Linked DNA regions of Homo sapiens: region 2 is linked to region 1. Evidence: fine-mapped QTL for protein levels in blood plasma. A gene starts in region 1. The other region holds a variant in brackets. All regions are shown on one strand. Distances are from middle to middle.

Evidence for each region. PIP is the chance, under the fine-mapping model, that this variant and not a neighbour inherited with it causes the effect. Protein levels are from antibody-based Olink assays in UK Biobank. Linkage for the fine-mapping came from a reference panel and not from the study's own genotypes, which makes the PIPs less certain.
Region 2: its variant is fine-mapped to the plasma level of the BMPER protein (UK Biobank, PIP above 0.99).

What each region holds. Positions count from the first base shown.
Region 1 is chr7:33,905,351-33,908,276 of GRCh38, reverse strand. It overlaps BMPER (BMP binding endothelial regulator), which reads right to left and starts at 2,738. Exons shown (of 15, transcript NM_001365308.1): 1 at 2,531-2,738; 2 at 1,374-1,459. The coding sequence starts at 2,663.
Region 2 is chr7:34,153,138-34,156,063 of GRCh38, reverse strand. BMPER (BMP binding endothelial regulator) reads right to left here. Exons shown (of 15, transcript NM_001365308.1): 15 at 1-2,926. The coding sequence ends at 2,791. Among named protein-coding and RNA genes, the nearest start is that of BMPER, 250 kb to the right of the region's middle. The variant T/C (reference allele first, on the strand shown) is at 1,574.

The DNA.
Region 1 (2,926 bases):
TTAATAGATTAAGATAAAATAATTCACTCACATTACACAGATAAGAAAAATAAAAAAGGAAGATTAAACACACATACACACACACTGCATTTGTAAATCTACAACTGAGTCAAAATTTAAACTGAAAGCTTCTTTTCAACAAATTATTTACTAAAAGATCATCAATGAACACAGCAACCCATAAATATGCAATCATAATACACCCTCTCTCAGCTCTGTTTTATTAGGCAGCAATATTTATTGTGTCAGCAAACGCAGTGCGTTTTTACTTGTTTCTGTTGATTTCCTTAGTCTTCCGAACCTGATAATTGTTTGATACAGCCATTTACCTTCACCCATTTATCACTTCAAAACATTGACCTCAACTCTTGTCATGAAAAAATTTATGTAGTATAAACTCAGATAGCTTGGCTTTTGCCTAAACCGAAATGAATTCCTTCTCCAGCGCCACACAGCATGCTGATCTAGCAACAAGTAGTCCTCTATCATTCTGGGGCTTTGCATTTGACTGCCTTAATGTATTTCCAACAAGGTTTTATAATGTGTAGTTTCTAACCAAATTTTGCCAAAAGTGATTGGCATGTAAAACACTCCTAAGCAAAAATGTTTACCTTGTAGGTCTATATTTCATCTCAGAAATTCTTATTCACATTACTTAATCTCCCCCAAGTGGTTACTTATTAGACTTATCATTAACTACTAAACTAAAATAAATGGAAACAAATTATTTTTTGAGTCTTCTAACCACTGATAGTGTTAACTAAGCAGCTGACAGCCAAGTGTCATTCTCTATTAAGGATGGAATTGTCCTTTCCGACTCATGCTTCCAAATCAGAAATAAAGACAGTATTTGAGGGTTTAGGGTATAACAGGCAAAGAAACCCGAGAAAGAAATCCAGAATTACATCTTGTCCTTATGTTTGTTTTTTGTGGCTGTCACCTCTCTTTCCCTTTGTCGCATACCTTATTCCTGACCTTCATACTTAAATCTTATCTCATCATTTTCCCACTGAGCTTAAATGACAGAACCAACGCAGAAAGTTTTGTTGTCCCAAGAATTTGGTTGTAGTAATCATTACTGGAAACAGACATTACAAACTGTCATTTCACCGAGACGTCATACAAAGCCTATCTGAAATTTACGTCTATAAGGATGATGTCAAAGATAAGAATTTCCAGCTGGATGAAATGGAAATTGCCAAAGTCCATAAAACTCAGAAATTAACTGGATTCAACTCACAAACTATGTACAGTTATGTGCAATTTTGTAATGATAAAGACAATTTGTAAGATCTGGTTATATTATCACATTTAATGGATTCACCTTATCAGAGAGAGCAGTTGAGTTCATATTACCTGATCTCCACACTTACCAAGCAGACACACATTATGCAAGGGTTGTCTGTGATAAATGGAATCTGGAGGACTTCACCTTCATTTTCACATTTTGCAACAGAACCTGAAATTCAGGGGGGAAAAATGTTTCATTTAAAGTTAGCTTAGCAGCATGATTTCAACATTTAAAATTTTTACACTAATCCTTTTTGAAACCTCTACCCAAACTTCAGAATTCTTAATGTGGTTTAAATTATTAAATTCACCAAAGCAAAACCTCTGCCCCCAACTCCATTTTCAATAATTTTATTTAAACAGGTTCAAAAAAGAAAAGACTATGATATAGGGATAAATTATCTGTTCTCAGATGGTCTAAGCACAATTCCAAGTATTTCACTGGATTTTTAATAACACTCCTCCTTTATGAAGATATTTCAACTAAGCACACAGCCCCATACGCAAAGAAAAAAATAAAAAATAAAATTTAAAAAAACCCTCAAATTGGGGCAGATTTTAAATTGACCAAAACTCAGAACTGAGTCAATAAACAGGCCTTTCTATGAATCTGTCTCGCATTGTCTTAGGTTTAAATCACTTTTTGAAACGCAATCCCCTTTTCCCTTCTCTTAGAAATTGACTCCATATTTTCTTTTCTGCACCAGGTGTCAGTAAAGTATGTCCTTCAGAATAGCAGCTGAGGTCTTCACCTGCCTGAAAACATATAATTATTATATCCGGCTATTAGTGCCCTTTTTAAATGATAGTTTCTTTAAATTCAAGGTCTTGAGAGCCAGTGCTTTAAAAAGCACTCCTAGCACAGTGGATGTATTGCAACCCCAAAGATGAGAAAGGAAGATGTGCGGAAAACTGCACAAATTTTTTTCCTGAGTTCTACAGAGGGAAAGATTAAAATAAAAGTTGAGGAAAGCATTAAAAATAAATAAAATAATTTCTCAAATTCAAATAGAAGAATGTCTATTATTACTACATTGAAGGCAACAGCCTCTCAGCCCGCAACCTCTTCACCAGCCTTCCCAGCCCTCCCGGGGCTTCGCTTCATCCCCATCGACCAGCGCAGGGCAAGCGCCAAGGTGCGCGCTCCCCACCCTCCCATCCCCGGGGCAAGCCAGCGCCACCTTTCCCAGGTACCAAACCGGCGTCCCGGAGGGCCGGTCCCTCCCGCCCCCTCCCCTACCTGTCAAGAAGGAGGAAGCCAGAGACATGGGGACCCCCGAGCAATTGAGTAGCAGCAAGACGCAGCACGTAATCCCAGGCGAGCGGCGGCAGTAACGCTCAGCCAGAGCCCCGACGCCGGAGAACCAGAGCATCGTCACCTGGAGGGAATCCCTGGCGACTGCAGGTCCCGCGCCGCCGCCTCTGCTCAGCTGCCGCAGCTCACAGTCGAAAAGGGCTCTCAGCCGGCGTGTCGGGAGACCGTCCGCGAAGGAGGGAGGCGGGCGCCCGAGAGCTGGGGGGCGGGGGGGTGTGAGGGAGGGCGGGGGGAGAGACCAAGGTGTGGGGGCGCCCGGGGAGGAGGGGTCCTGCGGCCAGGCTCCTCCGATGCGGCTTTTTTTTTTTTTTTCCTGAGGGA
Region 2 (2,926 bases), 250 kb before region 1:
AAAATTGCTCTTGTCGATGCCAAAGAGATATCTTTTCTTCCCAGCTAAAAAATTTTAGGTCAGGACCCTCAAATATTCCTATTTACAGAGGGAGAGAAGAAAGAACTTAGTTTTACTGAGTACCAACAATGGGCAATTAGAATCATAATTATGCTTGTTCTTCATTGAGGGTGCTTGTTTCTCATCAAATTCAATATTCATAGAACATTTTTATTTCAAGTCATCTCACTCTGCAAGAGCTTAGTTGAAGAACCAATTGAAAACATCCCATGTGAATGAAACAGGACTGCTCTCATTGAAGCACTTGGTAAATCCTCATTGTGCCCAATCATTAGACTAAGCCATTGCTCAGCTGTAGCCTGTGGCCTAAAAAAGAATATGCAGGCCAACCATTCAGCTGATTTCCTCACCCTCTCCCATCAGAGATGGCTCTTTGAATTAGTAAACCCAAGTAATTTTCTGTCCTCTCTGCCCTCCCTTTCTTCTTCAATTAGAAATGAGAAAAATGTACAGAGATTAAGCTAATCCCCAGCTAAAGGAATGCCACACAAACTTGTAATCAACCCACCCAAGATGATGAAACCGGCTCATGCAGAAGAGCTTTCATCATTCACCCATCCTGGCTGCCATGATTAAGTGTTGGGAAAGAGGCCGGTTAGCCTCATGGGGAGAATAACTCAGTCCTTGGATGAATCATGAGCTATAAATAACCATCCACAATTCTCCCTTCTCCATCATTTCCCTTATGCTGCCCTCTTTCAAAGATGAGAACCAACAGTGAACTGAAAAGGGATTTAAAGCTAATCTTAAGGAATCTGTTCGTTTTACAGAAGGTAGGAACCACCAGGCAACGTCAACTGATTTTCCCTACCCCTCCTGTCAGGGCAGAGCAGGGAATCAATGAGATTACAAGTAGGAAAGTATTTGCAAACCCTCAGTGCCTCCCATTACTGCCCAAAGTCTCCTAGCCTGTTAGTGGCAGGGGTCTAGTTTTCCCGATTCTCAACCCTGCTCACTATACTACATGGCCTCTTTGTGTTACAGATAAGCAAAAGTGAGACCCCCAAATGCTTAAATAATGGGGATAGTCACAAACCACACTTAGATCCCAAAGCACCTAAGTCAAAGTCTTCTTTCCAAGGGCAGCATTGAAACAATGACCTGACTACCTCAGGCTGCAGATACGAGGGTGATTAGTATCCAAACACAGGAATGAAAAAAAACACAAAGGCCCAGTGCCCCCAGCCAGTCACTATTACGCCCTGCACTTTATTCAGTTAATTCAAACAACTAGGGATTTTCCAGTCAAAAAAAAAAAAAAAAATTCCAAGTTAATACTTTAGCTGTCATGAATGTAAAAGAAACATAAATGTCTTTGACGAGCATTGGCAATATGCTGGCTTGTCAAAAACGTGGGTTTGCTTTTGTCTATTAATAATAGTCTTTATATATACTGTTGTAAGATACAAAAATTATAACTAAATACAGCTGTTAAAATTTAATGAATCTGAAGTTGATACAACTAATTGTAAAGTATAACACAGGACATCTTGAGAGAGAAAATGCATTGTTT[T/C]ACATCTTAAGCCCTTTATTGACTACAATGCAGAACATTTTATTTTAAGACACAGTGGGTTTTGTTTTTGTTGATGTTTTCACCAATTCAACTGAAGACGAAAGTCAAGACAATCAAATGGTAACTAGTAGCAGCCTATCAGTAAATGAGGGCAAGTATAGAGACTGTTCTTTGGACTGAGGTTAAATCAATTAGTCAATAAAGGCTTTTCCACTGTCTAATAATTATAACATATTAACAGTCGCCAAATAGTGTTGGATGGGACTCCTCTAGAAATAACTAAAGCCTTTCATTTTATACATGAAATAGCCACAAAATGTAGATGGGTTACATCAACTCATTGGATTTGCCCATCTTAAATTACTCTGAGATTCAGAGAAATCAAAATTTCATCATATGTTGTGCAACAGTTTCTTCAAATACTTTCTCATGCTCAATAAAATTAACATGGCATCCAGACACCCTTTAATTTCAACACATGACATATAAATGGTCACATCCATCATACACACATAGATGATTAGAAGACTTGAGGACTACGCAAGGATGGCAAGAAATCACTTGATTCTTCGGTTATGCCCTAGTGACAAATATATATTTCTTGGCAACCAGCCAATCAATTTTGGAAATAATGTTAGCCCATGACCTAATACATTCTAACAGCCTATCACTCGCTTTTCATGCACCATTAGGGCCGGTCACCAATCTCCTGCTGTCTTTCCCAGGCATACATTCCTTTCTTTGGAAACCTGAAATGCCCCTAGATAAATGTGCCCTTCTCCAGAGAAACACATTTCCCACTCCATTACAAATCCTGACTCAAAACTAAAATTAATACAGGCAGGCAATTGAGGGCTCTTAGAAAACTTCCTTAAAAATGACAAATGTATGTGATGTTAACACTATCCAATGTATCTGCATGCCACCTTATTAAATTAAAAACACCTGGTGTATTTATACAACATGTTCAATGGCTTACAGGTTAGGATCCTAGAAACAATACATGTCTTATAGCAAAAAATATACATATAATAATCCCCCTATAGTTCATATAAATGATGCAATGTTTTTGAATATATCTATATATATATACACATATATACTCTGTGTGTGTGTGTTTACAGAATCGGGCACACAAATACTGCAGTCCTTCATTGGCTCTTCCGCTTCAGTGTCAAAGTCACCAGATTTCAGAGTCTTAAGGATCGAAACAAAGGTCACCGCTGGGGACAAAGGACTGGCTTGATGCACCTTCCCTTGTGAAGGACCAAGTTTGCTGGACAGTGGCACCCAGCAACGCACGGCTTGTTGCATGGACCAATTTCATTCCAGTTGTCACACGTCTTGATACAT